Regions from separate parts of the Homo sapiens genome. Here region 1 is reported to be linked to region 2. Evidence: microRNA targets listed by miRTarBase, many of them from high-throughput screens and not tested one by one. Region 2 holds a microRNA gene; the other region holds the end of a gene's coding sequence.

Region 1 (4,267 bases), not on the chromosome of region 2:
CCTTAGATGAGTGAATTACCTGATACAGGAATTCCATCTCAATAAAGCCTTTTTAAAAAGTAATACTCTTATATTAATGAAGACTCATAAGCTCCCAACTTTGTGACTAATAGTGCCTCTAATCTGTGCTGTTCTTTTTGACTGCAGAAGTCTGTGGCCCAATGACATCTTTGGAAGCAGTTCTGATGATGAGGTCCAGACACTACTGAATATTTATTTCCGTCACCAAACTCTGGGACAGACGGGTACTTATGCCCTGGTGGGGTCTAACCAGAGCCTGACCGAGATCTGCACCAAGCTGATGGAGCTGAACATGGAGATCCGGGACATGATCCGCAGGGCCCAGAGTTACCGAGTCCTCACTACTTTTCTTCCAGACTCCAGTGTTTCTGGCACTAGTCTCTGACAGGAGCCTCCTGTCCCCACTGGGTTCCAAACTGGCAGTGCTGCCATGCTGGGGCAACGTCATTCAGTGTCTTCTCGGCCTTCAAAAGGCTTGGACAGACTGTTCTCCCTCTTGTTACCTGTAGGGCTTTTTCTAAAGAGGATGGCAGAACTTCCAACGTGTAGCAATACTATAAGAACCAAGGTAGCTTAGAACGTCCTGGACAGACTCCACTCATCATGCTGTGTGGCACAAATGTGTTACATTTGACCGAGCATATGCAACTCGCTACTGAAGAAGTGACTTCCGTTGCATACCAAAGCCGACTACACTGAACAGTACCTTCCTTTCTAGAAACAATTTTAGATTGGCAAAAGTGCAATGTTTTCTTCACTCAAAAAATTTTATATTCTCAAACATGTATATTCTTTCCCTGTCTTGTTCCATTTTCTTTTCTTTTTTCTTTTTTCTTTTTCCTTTCTTTCGTGGGCTGAGAAAGGGGCAGGCAAAATGAAGCTGGCCACTGAAAACTGTAAGATGGTCAAAAGCTGACAGCCTGTGTATGTGAAAAGGGAATTGTAAATGGACTGCAATGTAATGTACACTGTAATTTGAATACAATTACTGTATCTAAAAGGAGCTGCTATGAAGTACCTTTCTTATGTTGCTAGGCTACTGTTTCTGAAAGCCCTGGATCTCTTTGCACCAAAAATGGTCCAGATAGACTCTTTTTAAGGATCTTGGCTGCTTTTTACTAGAAGGTTGCTTTTATGAGCATATTTATACTGCTGAAGGATGAGTGTTAATTTTAATTAACTTTGCCGTTTTGTAGAGAAAACTATTCACAAGATAAATTCCAAGTCTTTTCACCTGTCAGGCATGCATATTTTAATATCTGTTTGGATAGTCAGAAGTAGAATCATAAAGGTAAAATATGAGTTGTTACTTTGTTTCTTCGATGTCATATTTTATGTGTAATATATATGTAAAGGGCCATTCTTAAGTTCTCTCCTTAAACTTAATGCTGTCAAGTGTTAGATGTGTGCATGTGAACTTGTTGCACTGCAGAAACATATTCAGAGTTTATCTATGTAACTTATTCACTCTGTAAATACATTTAAAGTTTTTGTGATGTAAGCTTAATTGATATTCTGTTCAGAACTTTCTTTAGACTAAAAAAAAAAAAAAAGACAAAATACACGTTGACCATGGACTTTATTTCTGGTTAATGAAAATGTTTGTCCTGGGCACACATGAAGTTTTGCATGTGGGTTGCCAAAGTAATAACCCCAAGGGGCACCCCTCGCATGTATGATCTGAATGGCACCCGTGGGGGTCATGCCATGCATGGCCCTGTGAAGCTGGAGGTAAGTATTATCTCTTTGGAAGTTGGCATCAAAACTGTGAGCTTCAACCAATTCTCTGTAATCAACCAAAGAGAAAAATCAGAAAAAAGTGAGAGCTCTAATTCTCCATAACCTATAATTAGGTTGTCATCCTTCAAATTTGGAAGTTAATTCTATAGTGAGCAGGAAAAAGTAGTAGAGTTGTAATTCTGTCACCAACACCTATCCCCCAGGAACACAGGGAGAAACATGTAACAATCTCATTTATGCCGTCTTTCTACTCATATTTTACATGGACCAACAAATATAGCTTGCTTTACTAGCATATGGCTACTGAATCATTGGCAGTAATATTCTAGGAGTATTCTATAGAAGAGAGCCTAACCTAGGATTTTTTTTAAATCCTAGTAGTTGCTACAGATGCAACTACTAGATTTTAATAATTTTCTGGACTGCTGAAAACATATTTTTCTGATGATTTATTTTTTTCAACTTGCCTGAAAGATGATTTGCTATGATTTGTAGAAACAACTGAATCATGATCTCTCTGAAAAATATCATAAAATAAAGGTTTCTGTGGCTAACCACAGTAGACAACTTTCAGAGAGTTTTGTTGGGAGCCACAGTAGAAAGAACAGATTCGTCATGAACTGAGTTTTCTACCATGGCTTCTTACCCAGCAGAGAACCACCGTGATGGTTTACTCTTAAAAAGGGAAGGAAAAAAAAAAAGGATTTCAACAGTACATTACAATCCAAGATATTAACATAGGAAGCAGTGGTCTGTGTTTTTCTCAATTTTATTTTTAAAAGGAGATGTATTAATGTGAAAGGTTTCTTCTACTTTTCCTCTATCTCTTCACCTCCTCTACTTTAAGTGGAGATGGGAAAAATTGTGTAGGATGCAGCCCCACGCCAGCAGAGCCCAGCAATAACTTTAGATCTACCAGTCAAATCTTGTCGGCTATTGCTCTGTGCCTCTGTTACAGAAGCATTAATGTTAATTGCCTTCCCCAGGGATACAAAGAAGTAGAAGTACCAAAGGAAAGGGTAGATATTTAACAGATGCCTCAGTGATAAGAAAGATGCCTCCTTGTGTCTCACTGTTTTCTAGCACTGAAACATGATACACTTTGTATCCACCTGCAGAATAAAGCAATCCAGACAGGCGCTCTGTAACTTAGACATCACTTGATTAAAATTATAGTCTCCAAATATAGTGTTTTAGAAAAGGCACTGCACATTTTTAGAGGCACGTGAATGTCATTCCCACCTCTAACCCATCTAACATCGGTGAGATGTTAAGAAAATGTGCCGATGTTACTGTGAAATAAAGATGCCTGTAATTAATTGTAGGCATCACACACATGCGTGAACATCCAGAGTTAGGTCTCAAGGCTCTTCTGGTTCTAAGTCCTAACAAACAATGATCTTTTCAGTGAACTGTAGAATTCTGGAAAGAATAAGCGTACCTCCAGGCTGCTTACATCAATAGCTTACACGTGCTTCCTGATGCCTGCCTTAACAACAAAAAATTCGTGTCCATAGGTGAGTATTAGGGTATGTTCATTGTATCTCAATGAAACTAGTTTTTAAAGTTTTCAATGCATTTGTTTGAGATCAATTAATATTTGGATACCTATCATGACCCAGGATATTTCTTTGTTCAGCAAATATTTATTGCATGCCCACTCTGGGCTAGGCACTGTTTTAGAGGACACCGCAGCTATCAAGGCAGATGTGGTCCCTGTTCCCATGAGGCTCCTACATTTGAGTGGAGGAAGATGTACTTGTCTACGTTGGGTGATGATTAGTGCCATGAAGAACAAAACGGATACAGTGAGTAATGTGGACAGGGCTATCTTAGCTATCACTCTAATAAGGTGATATCTGAGGAGAGATCTGAATGAAGTGAGGATACAATGGATATCCAAGGAAAAGAGCATTCCAGCAAAGGAAAAAACACATGCAGAGACCCTGAAGGAGAAGCAGGGTCACTTTGTCAAAGGGACAGCAAGGAAGCCAATGACCGGGTGAAATGAGTGAAGAGAGCGTTCAGAGAGGACAGCCAAAAGCTCTGTGGGCCACGGCAGGACTTTGTCCCTTGCTGAGCAAGATGGGAAGCCACTGAATGTTTGCGGGCAGGGTAGTGACATGCTGTGACTTATGTTTAAAAGGATTACTCCTTCATAGCGATGAAGAAAAGCTCTATAACAAAAGTTCCGTTGTGGTGGTTATACAGCATTGTGAATGTACTTAATGCCAATGAATTGTGTACTTTAAAATGGTAAATTTTATGTTATATATGTTTTACCACAATAAAAATAATTTTTTTAAAGGATCATTCTGGCTGCTATGTGCAGAATAGACTGCAGATGGGCAGAGGTAGAAGCAGGAAGACTAGAGAGATGGCTGTGGCAACAGTGCAGTCACCAGGCGATGCTGGCTTGGGCTAGGGTACTAGCAAGGGATATGATTAGTTGTGGGCATATTCTGGAAATAGTTCAGAGCTAGAGCTGACAGGGCTTACCAATGAC
Region 2 (4,652 bases):
TGGCAAACCAGGAGAAGAAATAATCCATTCAAAGCAGTATCTAGCACTAAAGATTGTGTTATTTAACTGTTGCTTAGTGGCTTAAACAACACTAATCATATTATCTCTCAGTTTTTAAGGGTCACACACTCAGTGCAGATGGGTGATTTCTTTCCACTTCCACATTATTTGACGTATCAGCTGGAAGACTTGAGGGCTGACTGGTTTGAATTATCTAAAGAATTGATTGGGGATGAAGAAGCTGCTTCTAATGTTATTTCACATGGCTGGAGAATCGGTGCTTACTGTTGGCAGTCAGCCTGAGTTTTTTCTCCATATGATCTTCTCTACATGGCTACTTGAGTGTCCTCAGAACACGGTAGCTAACTCCTCCCAAAATGAGAAAAATGGAAGACCAGAGAGGAGGCTGTAAACTTTTTAATGACCTAATTCTTACATCACACACTTTCACTTCAACAATATTCTATCTGTCATATATGTAAGTCCTATTAATTGTGGGATGGAATTAGATAGGAGTGTGAATACCAGGAGCCAATGTTTACTAGGAAAATATTGAATGTTGGTTACTACAGAGACTATGGTGGATTTGTATCATGCCAAATGAACTAAACTGGAATTGCATTCCCCAGAATTCCCCTCCAAGCATAGTTCTTTGGTATTAGTCCATTTTCACACTGACGATAAAGACATACCTGAGACTAGGCAATTTACAAAAGAAAGAAGTTTAACATGGACCTACAGTTCCATGTGGCTGGGGAAGCCTCACAATCACGGCAGAAGGAGCAAGTCATGTCTTACATGGATGGCTGCAGGCAAAGAAAGAGAGCACTTGTGCAGGGAAACTCCCCCTTGTAATACCATCAGATCTCATGAGACCCACCCAACACCATGGGAAAGACCTGCCCCCGTGATCCAGTTACTTTCCACCAGGTCCCTCACGTAACACTCGGGAATTCAAGATAAGATTTGGGTGGGGACACAGCCAAACCATATCATCTTTGTTAGTGAGGGCCATGAGAGATATTTTGTATGAGAGTTGGAAGGATGAAATGAAACAGCATCTATATTCTTTTTATTTTCAGAAAGTCAGCACTGGGCACATGGCACTGTTGTAGCTCACACAGGTGTCATTTATCTGTGGGATCACATTGTTGGAGTAGGGCAGTAGCTGGGCCCTCAGAAATGCCACAGCTGCCAGACACCCACTTTCAATCACTCTGACTTTCAGTGAGGTATGGTTTAGCTCATAGCAGCTCCTCCTGCAGATTACCCCAACTTTAAAGTTGGACACATGGAAGCAGGGTTGCAACTCTGTCCTGATAGATTCGGGTTTATTCTTGCAGGTACCAGTTTGTCTCGCTTCCCTCATTTTACGTCCATTTTATCTTTCAGACTGTGTGCGCTGATGACTTTAGGCTCAGCACTAGACACAGAAACAATAGTTTCACAAAGACTTTTCAACAGTTTCCACAAATATATAAGGCAAATCCCTATTACAAATCCCTTATTATACACAAATCTGGTGGTACTGCTTCTCAGATCAGACTCTGACATAGAGACTATAAAATAAGTAGCTTTAAATTGAATGAAGCAGGAAAGAGGAAATCAATTACTATAAGAGATAAGGTGACATAAAAAGCAGATATATTTGAAAAGAGGCCAAATAGAAGTTATAAAATGAAAAATATATTAAATAAGAAAAACCTTCTAATATATAGATTTATATATATATAATATATATAAATCCTGAACAGGATATGGGTGGCTTTGACAAAATTCCACATAAACAGTAGTTCAGATAAGATAGATGTTTATTTCTCTTTCTTTTTTTTTTTTTTTTTTGAGACAGAGTCTCGCTCGTCGCCCAGGCTGGAGTGCAGTGATGCATCTTGGCTCACTGCAAGCTCCGCCTTCCGGGTTCACGCCATTCTCCTGCCTCAGCCTCCGGAGTAGCTGGGACTACAGGTGCCCGACACCACGCCCAGCTAATTTTTTGTACTTTTGTTAGAGACGGGGTTTCACCGTGTTAGCCAGGATGGTCTCGACCTCCTGACCTCATGATCCGCCTGCCTCTGCCTCCCAAAGTGCTGGGATTACAGGCGTGAGCCACCACGCCCGGCCTATTTCTCTTTCATAAATTGTAAGCATTTCAGGACTTCGATGATAGATAAGACATTTCCACATTGTCAACAAACCAGATCCTTTATTGTAACTTCCTCAATTAGCTTTTTAATCAGAGTCCAGCTTGGATGCTCCACATCTGCCATGTCTGCACCCCCACAGTGAAGGTGTTACTAGGTTGGTGCAAAAGTAATCACGGTTTTTGCCACTGAGAGTAATGGCAAAAACAGTGATTACTTTTGCACCAACCTAATAGTTTAGGCTGCTGTCACAAACTACTATAGGCTGGTGGCTTAAACAACAAACAGTTGTTTCTCATAGTGCTGGAGGCTAGGAAGTTCAAGATAAAGGTGCTGGCAGATTATGTGTCTGTTGAGGCTCACTTCTTGGTTTATAGACTACCAAGATCTTATTTTCATATGAAGGGAAGAGAGCTAGCTACTCTATGGCCTCTTCTCATAAGAGCACTAATCCCATCCATGAGAGCACTAACAGTATTACTTCATCGACTCTGAAAGGTACCACCTCCAAACACTATCACATTGAGATGAGGGATTACGGTTTCAACATATGAATTTAGGGGGCCACAAACATACATTCCATTGTAGTGGGAAAGAAGAATGGGAAGACCTACTCTTTTCCTTTTAAAACTGTGATCCAAATGTTGTACATCAATTTCACGTATATACCATTTAACTGACCCAAAGTAGCTGCAAAAAGTGCTGAAAAATGTTATATTTAGGTAAATGGACACATATTCAGCTAAAAATAGCATTACTACACGAAATATATGGATATTGAGAAAGCAAATAATAGACTCCGACACGATGATTAAAAAGCAGATAATTCTCAACAGGCAATTAACAGAGAGAAAGAGCTGAGGATTTTACAGTTACTAAAAGCAAGTTTAAGAGATAAATAAGATAATAGATTAAAATGGGATAGATTCAATGAAAGAATAAGAGGGAATGAGATGGTAATGATGATTTTTTCAAAATCAATAGCATGAACCTAATATTTGAGAAGCACACTGGATCTGCTGCAAAATAAGATGAAATTACACACACACGCACAGACACACACACACACATACACACACACACACACACACACACACACACAGTGCTAAAACCAAAACCAAACACCCAAGACATAAAGATCTTCAGAATCAACATAAATAACTTATGAGGAAAACTACTAGCTTCTTTATAAAATCTACATTTCAATGCACTGCTGTGGTTGCAGGGAAATAAGTAAATCTCCAAGCACCCCTTAAATAAACAACCTAATAAACATGCAAAAAATGACCTGAATCCTGAGATAGAATCAAAGAACAGTGCGCTACCTGCAAGACACAAATGGGAAAGTTGGAGCTAGCCTGAGACAAGTGTTGAAATTAGCATTGTGTTCCAGAGACTAAGCTTGAGGGAGCTGATCCTGGAAACCTGGCATTATGTCAGCAAGCCTGGTCCCAGGTCTTACTACATCAAACTCCTAGCAGAGATAATTTCAAATTCTACCCTGGAGAAAAAGTTGACCCTAGGATACCTAAAGATTAAGATTAAAGAAATCAAGCCATGGTGAGTGAGACAGCAGAAACAACAAATAGCAAACATCTAATTAAGACTCCCAATGGCTTCAGATATAGAAATTATCAGAAATTGAATGTAAAATGCTATATATGAAATGTTTAAATAAATAATAGGTGAAATTACAAAATCAGTAAACACGAAAATGTCAAGAATGAACAGACACAGAATTTTACTTCTGGCCATGCTGATTAACAGAGACAGGAGCTTTCCTAACATTATAAATATCTGGAAAACTTGGAAAATGTATGAGTCAAATTCTTTCAGATATAGGAGATTAGGCAATTTAGGATTATGGTCCAAGGGAAGTGGAAACAAAGTGAGCTCTATTAACTGCCTGGAACTACTTTCCAACCTGTGGTGCAGAGGGGGTCACTAGCATGATCTCACTGAGTTGAGTAAACAGAGATCAGAGTTAGGGAAGACTGACTTACCTGGAATATTGAATGTGTAGGACACATTACCAGTGAGAAGGAAAGTAGGTGAAGGAGGAGCTCCAGGAATATGCACAGGGGTCTCCTTGAGAATGTTCTAGGTACTAAGTTGTACATGCATGGGAAAAGTCAAAGGGCTGGGAGCTTTAAGCTGAAGGACTCCCAGAGCTCAGGTAGGGCGGGGAAATGTTTACTTCTGAACCAACCAGAATAGATTGAACATCTACAACATTCAGTGGAAACATGAGAAGGTTCAGGCCTTAGTATAAGTGCTAAAGTAGTCCCGAGGTAAAGAATTCTCTAAGTCCAGCCTAAAAAGCTTAAAAGCAAACCTCTAAAGAATCACACTGATCCACAATTACATACTTACTTAGCCAAATGAAATTGACATTTGTAAAAGGATGGCAACAAAATCCAAACACTCAACAATATAGCTCTCATAGTTTGGGGCCAAATTTAAAATTACTGTATATGAGAAGAAGCAGGAAAATGTGAGCCATGACCATGA

What was found. Region 2 holds the annotated microRNA hsa-miR-548y (AAAAGUAAUCACUGUUUUUGCC, at 2,341-2,362, opposite strand). A microRNA usually pairs through its seed, bases 2 to 8, with sites in the 3' UTR of a target mRNA and lowers its output. Matches are read on the target gene's strand: a 7mer-m8 pairs with bases 2 to 8, a 7mer-A1 pairs with bases 2 to 7 and ends in A, and an 8mer does both.
Region 1: the mRNA of FRY is a reported target of hsa-miR-548y. Seed matches in the 3' UTR shown: 7mer-m8 at 1,328-1,334, 7mer-A1 at 2,600-2,606 and 7mer-A1 at 4,006-4,012.

What each region holds. Positions count from the first base shown.
Region 1 is chr13:32,295,055-32,299,321 of GRCh38, forward strand. FRY (FRY microtubule binding protein) reads left to right here. Exons shown (of 61, transcript NM_023037.3): 61 at 148-4,071. The coding sequence ends at 406. Among named protein-coding and RNA genes, the nearest start is that of ZAR1L, 18 kb to the right of the region's middle.
Region 2 is chr14:47,758,721-47,763,372 of GRCh38, forward strand. It overlaps MIR548Y (microRNA 548y), which reads right to left and starts at 2,384; the gene lies at 2,275-2,384.